Linked DNA regions of Homo sapiens: region 1 is linked to region 2. The links come from fine-mapping of genetic effects on gene expression. A gene starts in region 2. The other region holds a variant in brackets. All regions are shown on one strand. Distances are from middle to middle. Region 1 overlaps OGDH (oxoglutarate dehydrogenase). Region 2 holds the start of TMED4 (transmembrane p24 trafficking protein 4).

Evidence for each region. PIP is the estimated chance that this variant, and not a neighbour inherited with it, causes the effect.
Region 1: its variant is fine-mapped to the expression of TMED4 in whole blood (TOPMed, PIP 0.98).

Annotation. Positions count from the first base shown.
Region 1 is chr7:44,628,658-44,634,031 of GRCh38, forward strand. The region is part of intron 2 of OGDH (oxoglutarate dehydrogenase); the gene reads left to right. Among named protein-coding and RNA genes, the nearest start is that of OGDH, 25 kb to the left of the region's middle. RefSeq lists an enhancer at 1,151-1,200. The variant G/A (reference allele first, on the strand shown) is at 3,042.
Region 2 is chr7:44,580,132-44,585,505 of GRCh38, forward strand. It overlaps TMED4 (transmembrane p24 trafficking protein 4), which reads right to left and starts at 2,100. Exons shown (of 5, transcript NM_182547.4): 1 at 1,916-2,100; 2 at 1,592-1,692; 3 at 1,318-1,443; 4 at 962-1,108. The coding sequence starts at 2,075. RefSeq lists silencers at 1,724-1,823, 2,224-2,383 and an enhancer at 2,474-2,583.

The DNA.
Region 1 (5,374 bases), 49 kb after region 2:
CAGACTGGTCTTGAACTCCTGGGCTCAAGCAATCCTCCCAGCTTGGCCTCCCAAAGTGCTGGGATTACAGATGTGAGCCACCACACCCAGCCTCTTAAAAAAAACTTCTATTCTTAAAATGCTTAACTGATGTGAAAATTATATTTGTGGTAAAATATTTTAGCAAATCAGAGCTGCAAGTACCTTTTTTACCCTAAGTCCACTCCCCAGAACAGAATCCGGTTAACTAGCTGACCTGGGTCTGTCTCTGTGGTGGGCCCATCTGCCATCTCCCTTTTGTTCCTACCTTTGGTCCTGTCCTAGACTTTCGTCTCTGTTCTAGTCTGGCATTTGTGCTCCTCACTGACCCCTCTTAAGAGCCTTCAGCGGTGGCCTGGGCTGTCAGCCTATGAAACCCTCCTCATTAGGGTCTCAGCATATTTGAGGTCACATCAAATGATGACATCTTTATTTATGTCTTTAAGACACAGTCAGAGCTAAGTTATCCTTGTTAATGTTTAAGACAAACAGGTAATTGAGAACTGCTAAGCCCCCATGAGTCTGGGTGTTGATCTCATTTTGTTTTGTAGGGACAGGTGCCCACCTACAGCTGTAGCATGGTGTTGAGTTCCTTGTGATGCATCTGCCAGGTTCTGGCCCTGCTGAGGAAGAGCCAGGATTAGGTCCTGAGGGAGTGGAAGGAGCTGGGGCCTGTTGTTCTTCTCCCAACAGTGCCTTCAGCAGCTGCCTTGAGGGTGCCATCATTGGCCCTGCTTTTCTTCTAGGCCCTCCTGGCCATTTGGCTTTCTCACAGCTTGCTTTGTACCTCAGGGCTCTTCCTCTGCTCTGTGCTTTCCTCTGCCCTGCCCACCTGCCTAAAGCCTGCCTCCCTGTTCTTGTTAACTGATGCCCATTTCTTTTCTTTCCTTTTTCTTTTTCTTTTCTTTTTTTTTTTTTTTTTTGAGACGAGTCTCGCTCTGTCACCAAGTCTGGAGTGCAGTGGCGCAGTCTCGGCTCTCTGCAACTTCCGCTTCCTGGGTTCAAGCAATTCTCGTACCTCAGTCTCCCAGCTAGCTGGGATTACAGACGTGCCCCATCACGCCTGGCTAATTTTTGTATTTTTAATAAAGACGGGGTTTCACCATGTTGGCCAGGCTGGTCTTGAACTCCCGACCTCAGGTGATCCGACCGCCTCGGCCTCCCAAAGTTCTGGGATTATGGGCGTGAGCCATCATGCCCGGCCTGATGCCTGTTTCTTGATGGTTTTTTCTTCTTGCACTTTTCACGTGTCAGCTCCTAAAGTGTGTACATGTGGTCGCTGCAGGAGGGAGGGTCTCTATGCGTTCAGATTACAGGTGCAGGCTGTTGGCCTGCTGCTGAGTCTGGCATCGCTGCTCATCTGTCGACACCGTTCTGCTTCCTCCTTTCGTGCTTATGAAACACAGTACTGGTGTTTTCTATGGGTGAAACTAAGTGGAGGAAAAGCACAGATACACAAACTGTCCCATTATGCAGTGTTATGGGCCTTTTCACTCTGCAGTGTTGAAACTGCCTTGGCCTCACTTTGAAAAATAGGACTATGGTACCCATGGTTGTGTCCTGGCCTGGGGTTCCTCCCATGGCAGGAGCCCTGCTCCAAGTTACCCTCCTAGCCGCTGCATGTGCGGTGAAGGGGCTTCCCACAGTGGGTATGTGGAAGTCTGATGGAAGTCTGATGTGCTCATAAGGAGATCTGATATGTTCACGTGACAAGGAACAGCTGTGTTGAAAAATCTGCAGAACACTTTGGTGCCACTCAAGTTATTTATTTCTGGGAATAATTCACAAGGCACTTTAGGCAATGCCAGTTGGGTGGTTGGAATGCATTTTGAGTATTTTAATCTTTTATGTTTGATTTATGAATGACTTATCAGAAATATATGTAGTCATTCCTTGGTATCTGTGGGGGATTGGTTCCAGGGCACACTGAGGATACTAAAATCCAAGGAAGCTCATGTCCCTTGTATAAAATGAAATATAAACTATGCACGTTCTCCCATATACTTTAAATCATCTCTAGATTACTTGTAATACCTAATACAAGGTAAATGCTATGCAGATAGTTGTTATACTTCATTGTTTGTGGCAGCAGTCCCCAACTCCTTTGGCACCAGGGACCAGTTTCGTGGAAGACAATTTTTCCATGGACTGAGGGATCAGGGGAGGATGGCTTTGCAGTGAAACTGTTCCACCTCACATCAGGCATTAGTTAGATTCTCATAAGGAGTGAACTTAGATCCCTTGCATGCACAGCTCACAATCCAGTTGGCTCTCCCATGAGAATCTAATGCCCCCGCTGATGTGACAGGAGGTGGAGCTCAGGTGGTAATGCTCGCTTGCCGCTCACTTCCTGCTATGCAACCCAGTTCCAAACAGGCCACTGACCAGTACTGGTCTGTGGCCCGGGGGTTGGGGATCCCTGGTTTAGAGAATAATAACAGGAAAAAAAAGTGTACATGTTCAGTACAGGCAGTTTTTTACCAACTATTTTCAATCCACGTTTGGTTGAATCCATGGATGCAGAACCCACAGATACGGAGGGCTGACTGTATACATAAACTGCATGGTCTACGTAAATGGGGTTTCAGCGATGAGCTTTGAAGTTACCCCTTGATGATTTTTTGTTTTTGAAGATTCAGGAGGTACATGTGTGGGTTTGTAACATGGGTACGTTAAGTAATGGTGGGAATTGGGTTTCTAGTGTACCCATCACCCAGATAATGAACATTGTACCCAATAGGCAATTTTTCAACCCTCACTCTCCTACCACCCTCCCCCACCGCCACTTGATAATCTTTAACTTCACATGTTAAGAGCAATCTCAGCACTTGTGGCTTTTTGTGTTAAATCAGCTAAACTGACTGAGTGCGCCTTCTCCAACTTTAGCACAGTATTTCACTCTTAAGCAGTTTGCATTTATGGTTTATTTAGGGTGATAAAATTATAACCTCTTTGAAACAACAGGAAACATGAAGCAACACCCTCACTTGTGTGGTAGTTTGCAGCTCATGACAGCTGTGTTC[G/A]AAGCTTGTGCTGAGTGGCGGCTGCAAGAGGAAAAGCAGTCTTGCCCTGTTATCCTAGCAGGATGATTAAATAAGTTTAAACAACAGTTAAAATTCTAGCTCTCTTTTCTCTCTCTCTCTCCCCCTCTCCACCCCCTTCCCTCTTTCCTTTCTCTCTCCTCTCTCTCCCGGCCCTTAAAAAGAAAAATAAATAAATAAAAACATTTGGAATTCTAATAGAACCCACTGAGCTTCTGAAAGGAAGTGCATTATGCTGTGCTGTGAAGGAGCCCAACAGGGGCTCACGGTCACTCAGCAGGATGATGGATGCAGGCTTCAGGGCCAGGAGCCAGACGCAGCAAGAAAAAACCAAAAATTTGGATTATGAAGTAAATGGAGAGGTTCCAAGATCAAACCAAGAGGTGTTTGTTGATTTTGTTATGTGCTGTGGGAGCATGGACCCCTCAGCAGGTAGAAGGAGAGCAAGTTTGAGGATGTGGTGCAGGAGGAGTTGGGATCCCCAAGAGCAGGAGGGACTGAGGCCAGGACAGCAGGCATACGAGGTCACTGAGGCTGGTGGGAGGAGAGAGGCTTACTCTAAATGAGGATCACTGCATCTTTTGGAGCTCTTCTTTTTGAGACAGGGTCTCCATTACCCATACTGGAGTGCAGTGGCACCATGATAGTAGCCTCAAACTTCTGGGCTCAAGTAATCCACTCCCCCGCCACTCCCCCACGCCTCAGCTTCCTGAGTAGCTGGGAGTACAGGTGCACACCACCATGCCTGACTAATATTTTATATTTTTTATAGAGACAGGGTCTTGTTTTTTTGCCCAGGCTGGTCTCAAACTCCTGGCTTCAAGCCATCCTCCTGCCTTGCCTCCTAAAGTGGTGGGATTACAGGCGTGAGCCACTGAGCCTGGTGGATGTTTTTTGTTGTTGTTGTTATTGTTGTTTTGAGATGGACTTTCGCTCTGTCACACAGGCTAGAGTGCAATGGCACGATCTCGGCTCACTGCAACCTCCGCCTCCCCGGGTTCAAGTGATTCACCTGCCTCAGGCTCCCAAGTAGCTGGGACCATAGGCGCGTGCCACCACGCCTGGCTAATTTTTTGTATTTTTAGTAGAGACGGGGTTTCGCCATGTTAGCCAGGATGGTCTCAATCTCCTGACCTCATGATCCGCCTGGTGGATGTTTTTAATGATTATCCTTTTGTACTGTACTTTAAGAAAAAAAAAATTTTGTTTAATGTCAGAAATTGAAAGGGGAGAGAGATCAAAAATACCTTAATGGGGCCAGGCACAGTGGCTCACGCCTGTAATCCCAGCACTTTGGGAGGCTGAGGTGGGCAGATCACGAGGTCAGGAGATCGAGACCATCCTGGCTAACATGGTGAAACCCTGTCTGTACTAAAAATACAAAAAATTAGCCGGGCATGGTGGCGCACCCCTGTAGTCCCAGCTACTTGGGAAGCTGAGGCAGGAGAATGGCGTGAACCTGGGAGGCGGAGCTTTTAGTGAGCCAAGATTGAGCCACTGCACTCTAGCCTGGGCAACAGAGCGAGACTCTGTGTCAAAAAAAAAAAAAAAAAAAAAACCCTCAATGGGAAAGTAGACTCCAAGAGTGAAAAGGAGCAAATTGTTCCAGTGAGTTCCATTCTGTAGCACAGGTGGCCACAGGTGCTTGCCTTTGAGGAAATGAAAGAGCCATGCTTTGTAAGTCAGAGGCAGGCTCAGCTTCCCCGCACAGTCTGAAGCTGGGTGGCGGTGAGAAATTACTAAAAGGTTAGTGCCGGTTTTTTAGATGAAGTCATCATGTTATTAAAAAATAGTCTGTTTAGTCTCTAGGTTACTGTTCTCTGGCTCCCCTCCCCATCCAAGACTCCCTTGGAGGGAGGTTTGAGGACTTTGGGATTCTCATATCTCTTCGCGTCCATGATTGGATCGTGAGGTGAGGAGATAGCCTTTAGAACCCTCTCTTTGAGTGGTCAGTCACGTGGTATTCCCTCTGAAACCCTGGAGCAGATGCTTTGTGTAGCTGGGCTGGGGTTCCCCCAAATAGGGTTGCATAATTATTGAGGACAGATGAGGCCTCAACCAGACGACCACAGGTGACCCCAGACTGTGGGTCTTCCTCACCTCCTTGAGAGTTGCAATTCTGAGAGCTGATAAAATGTGCCATTGTGTGCAGATCTGGGTAGTTTGAAGCGTTCTCATTTCCTGAGGTGTGTCAGAAAGACTGCGTGAGAAAGGGGTCACAGTATCTTGGATGTCATCTTTTCATGCAGTAAAAAGTCTGGTTTCCATGAATGTTTGTATAACAAACCACCTCAAAACTTGGCACCAGTGTAGCA
Region 2 (5,374 bases):
AAGTAGAATGGTGGGTGTCAGGACAAAAGGAAACGGGAAGTTATTGTTTATAATAAGTACAGATTTGCTGGGTGCAGTGGCTCACGCCTGTAATCCCAACACTTTGGGAGGCTGCGGCAGTGGATTGCCTGAGGCCAGGAGTTCAAGACCAGCCTGGCCAACATGGTGAAACCCAGTCTCTACTAAAAACACAAAAATGAGCCACGCATGGTGGCACTTGCCTGTAATCCCAGCTACTTGGGAGGCTGAGGCAGGAGAATCGCTTGAACCTGGGAGGCGGAGGGTGCAGTGAGCCGAGATGGCGCCACTGCGCTCCAGCCTGGGCAACAGAGCGAGACTCCATCTCAAAAACAAAACAAAATAAGTACAGATTTTTAGTTTGAGAAGATGAAAAAGTTCTGGAGCTGGATGATGGTGTTGGTAGCACAACATTATGAAGGCACTTAATACCACTGAACTATATAGACAGTTAAAATGACACATTTGGTGTTATATTTTACCACAATAAAATGTTTTGATAAAAAAGCAAAACAGGCAGGGCGCGGTAGCTCACACCTGTAATCCCAGCACTTTGGGAGGCTGAGGCGGGCGGATCACTTGATGTCGGGAGTTCGAGACCAGCCTGACCAACGTGGAGAAACCCCCGTCTCTACTAAAAGTACAAAATTAGCCAGGCATGGTGGCGCATGCCTGTAATCCCAGCTACTCAGGAGGCTGAGGCAGGAGAATCGCTTGAACCTGGGGAGGCGGAGGTTGCAGTGAGCCAAGATCATGGCATTGCACTCCAGCATGGGCAACAAGAGTGAAACTCCGTCTCAAAAACAACAAACAAACAACCTATCTAAACCAATACTTCTCATTCCATTCTCTGCAGAGCTGATCTCCCAAGCAGAAACTTGAGTAGGTATAGTGGGTATAAAGGTCAACTGCCCTCTCAAATTACAAGGAGATATGCACTTGCCCTTTGGTAATCCTGCTCCTTCTGAATCTGTTCCACCTGATCAAGCAACTGGCGGGCGCGGAGCTGTAGCTCCGTCAGCTTATCTTTTGCAGCAATCTCAGGGTAGTTGTTGGCATGCTCCCCAACCTGGATGTCGAGATGCACCCGCTACAAGGAAACATGGAATGTATGAGTGGTGGGGCCTCCAGTTGTCTGTTCCAGGGTATGGAACCCACTATTGTCCCTGGCTGTGGAGCAGAAGGCAACATCTGTCTCCCCAATTCTGACTGTGCTACAAAGTTTCACAATCTTGATAAATCAAAATTTGGAAACAAGTGAGAGATTCTAAGCTGAAGCCAAAGAGAAAATCCTCTTACCAGTTTGCCACCAGCGAAGAGAGCCATCCTGGTAGAATTGGAGTGCAGACAGATTTGATGGTCACCGGGCGTGTGGGAGGTGAACGTGAAGCGGCCCTCCGAGCCGTACTGCCGGGACAGCACCACCTGCAACATATGTGAGTGAAGGCCCCACCTTTATACCGCAGGCTCTCCAAGTGCAAGTTCCTGTCCCTTGAGGCCTCCTCCAGGCAGTGCTTTACACCCCACGGGAGCTCCACTGAAGAACGGCTGCGTGGGCCAACGCCAGCCTTACCTTGCCGTCGGGGTCCTTCACTTCCACGTGCATGCCCAGGCCAGGGGTCGAGGGCAGGAAGACCTCCTTCTGCTTATCCCACATCTGGGTACGATAGTTGCCTGCGGGGCAGACACATAGTCACGACCGGCCCTAGTGGGCCGCCTCTCCGCCCGGCCCCCTCCGACGTGCGGCCCGGAGCTCTAGGCAGGGGGCCTGGCGTCCTCGGGGCACCCTCAGGCTAGGTACTGGGGGAGCCAGCGACCCGGCTGGGCTCGGGAGGAGGGAGCGCCGCCGAGGGCTGAGCTGGGTACAAAGGGCCTCCCCACCCTCAGCCCGCCTGACCGATGACCATGGTCTCGTCGGGGATTTCCTCGATGAAACAGCGCTTCTCGGTCTCGCCGATGTGGAAGTAGAGCCCCTGGGCGCCTGTGGCGCACAGCGCGAGAAGCAGCAGGGCCTGCCGCCCCATCGCCCGCAGAGGCCCAGCCCCGACACCTGCCATCGCGCCTCAGCCCCTAAGCGCCTGCGCACATTTGCGCATCGCTCTGCGCCTGCGCGCCACCCTAGCGACCCTGAGAGTTAGGGGAAGAGGACGCCTGCGCAGTGATATGTACTCGCCGTCTCCTGCAACTCCATCCGTACCGAACACTGCCGCGCCCCGCCCCCTCACACAGCCCGGCGCCCGCCTACCCCCGCAACGAGAGTAGAGGGCGCATGCGCAATGACGTTCGCCCTTAATTTCTCGCCCCTTACCCCGCAGCTTACCTCCGGCATCTCGCAGGGGAGGCACGCCTGCGCAGTCACGCCCGCCCTCGGCCCCAGTCAGCGATTTGGGTCTCGGAGCACCAAGGAGACGGTGGACGGAATCTGACCAGGCTTGGTGGCTACGATGGCCTGAAGCGTGCCTTTTGGGTTCTCAGCTCGGGCTCACAAGTGTTTTCTGTGCTAAATACAAAAAGCCCTGTGATGTTTTGCTTTGCGTGTCCACCTATCTGACTCGTAAGAACCGAGGCTGAATCCAGACCCACACTCTGTCACGTCGGGAGAGCCTGCCGCGGCGAGCCTCTGCGAGCGGGCATTTCTTGGGTGGGGACCAAAAGCCCAGTGCTGCCATAGTTTCGGATCATTCTTTTAAGAAGCTGGGGCCGGGCGCGGTGGCTGGCACCTGTAATCCCAGCACTCTGGGAGGCTGAGGCGGGCGGATCCCTTGAGCCCAGGAGTTCGGGACCAGCCTGGGCAACATGGTGAAACCCCCGTCTCTACAAAAAATTAACCGGTGTGGTGGTGTGCGCATGTAGTCCCAGCTACTTGGGAGGCTGAGGCAGGAGAATCGCTTGAACCCAGGAGGTCGAGGATGCATTAAGCAGTGATCGCGCTCCAGCCTGGGCGACCGAGGGTGATACCTTGTCTTAAAAAAAAGGTGGGAGAGTGGAACGAAAACTTGGAATAAGTAGGGTCATGGAGCTTGTTTACATCCCCTAGTTACAGCACATCCTTTTGAAAGTGAAAAACAAACTGGAATGTTACTTAGTGGGCATGGAATCGAAGCAACGGAAGGTTAAAACTGTTTTTATCAAGGCCAGGCGGGCGCGGTGGCTCACGCCTGTAATGCTAACACTTTGGGCGGCCAAGGCTGGTGGATCATCTGAGGTTAGAAATTCGAGACCAGTTGGGCCAACAAGGTGAAACCCCCGTCTCTACTAAAAATACATTTTATCAACAGAATTTCGAAACTTTTATATAATAGAATAATTACAATGAACTTTCATAAAGAACTTGAGCATACCTGGATTTTGGTATCCGTAGGGGTCCAGGAATTATCCCCCTTGGATAATAACGGAGGGCTGTACTCATCATCCAACTTCAACAACAGTTTGCTGCCTTTCTCATTTCATGTATCCCTTTCTGCATTTTTTTTTGAAGTGCTGTATATTAAAGCAAATCCTGGACATCATGTCATTTCACCTATAAATACGTCAGTGTGTGTCTCTAACAGATAAGGACTTTATACTATTATCACACCCACCAAAATTTTAAAAATTATTTAACATCACTTAATACCTAGTATGTGTTTAATTTTCCCCATTGCCTTAAAAAATTTTGTACATTAGATATTTAGGGTCCAAACAAGGTTTACTTACTGCATTTCATACAAATATATGTCTCTTAATATATAACAATTTTGGCTGGGCACAGTGGCTCATGCCTGTAATCCCAGCACTTTGGGAGGCTGAGGTGGAAGGATCACTTGAGGTCAGGAGTTTGAGACCAGCCTGGCCAACATGGTGAAACCCTGTTTCTACTAAAAATACAAAAATTAGCCAGGTGTGGTGGTGCACACCTGTAATCTCAGCTACTTGGGAGGCTGAGGCAGGAGAATTGCTAGAATCAGGGAGGTGGAGGTTGCAGTGGGCTGAGATGATGCCACTGTACTCCAGCCTAGGCAACAGAGTGAGATTCTATCTCAAAACAAACAAAAACAGGGCCGGGCGCAGTGGCTCACACCTGTAATCCCAGCACTTTGGGAGGCCAAGGTGGGCAGATCACGAGGTCAGGAGTTCGAGACCAGCCTGGCCAATATGGTGAAACCCTACCTCTACCAAAAATACAAAAATTAGCTGGGTGTGGTGGTGCTCACCTGTAGTCCCAGCTACTTGGGAGACTGAGGCAGAAGAATCGCTTGAACCCAGGAGGCAGAGGTTGCAGTGAGCCGAGATCATGCCACTGCACTCCAGCCTGGGTGAGAGAGAGACTCGTGTCCAAAAAAAAAAAAACAAACCATATAACAACATATATATATATTATACATATTATATATATATTATATATATAAATTTCCCCTCTCTTTTTGTTGTTTGTTATTCATGGCATTTACTTATTGAAGAAACTGGGTCATTTGACCAACAGAATTTTCCACTTTCTGGGTTTTGCTGATTGTATCTTCAGGTGTCATTTAACGTTTTTTGTCCCTGGTATGTCCTGTAATCACAGTTAATTCTAGAGTCAGGGGAGGTTTACAGTGAAACTAATGAAGCTTAATCTTCAGGCCCTCCCTTGCATAGACCCCCGTACCTAATTTCGCATTTATAATTTTGTGTCTTTTTCTTAAAGAGGACTGTGAAATTTGTATAGTTTAAGGCCCCACAAAGCTTGGATTTGCCCCTGGCTAGAAGCTTCATTAGGTTTAGGTGTAATGTTGAGGTTTGGGTTTTTTTGTTTTGTTTTGTTTGCAATAACGCTTCGTGGCTGGCACTATGTACTTCTACTGAGGCACAAGGCGGGTTTGTCTCTTAGTAATATTGTAATTCATCTCTCAATTTGGGGGTTGTCATCCTGATTATCCATGAAGTTTACCATCAGCCTTTCTTCTAATAGTCTAGCAAACGTTGATGATCATTAGACCATTGGTTCTCAACGAGGGTTGATTCTGCCCTGTCCTACCAAGGGGAAATTTGGCAATGTCTGGAGATATTTTGGATTGTTGCAACTGGGTGGGGGGTGGCGGGTGGTACTGCTGTTATCTAGAAAATGAATGCAAGGAATACTGCTAAACATTGTATAATTCACAGAGCACACCTCCCCCCCACAGCGAAGAATTATCCAGCTCAAAATGTCAGTAGTACCCAGGTTGAGAAACCCTAGTGTAGTTTTATGATGTTCCTTAGGTGTGCAAAGTGGTAATTTCAAATGCTCTCATTTCTCCTGCATTTATAAGATGAGATTCTTCTACAAAGGTGAGCATTCCCTCATCTCTCTGGTTACTTTGAAATACAATCCATTCGGGATAGCCAGGATGTATGC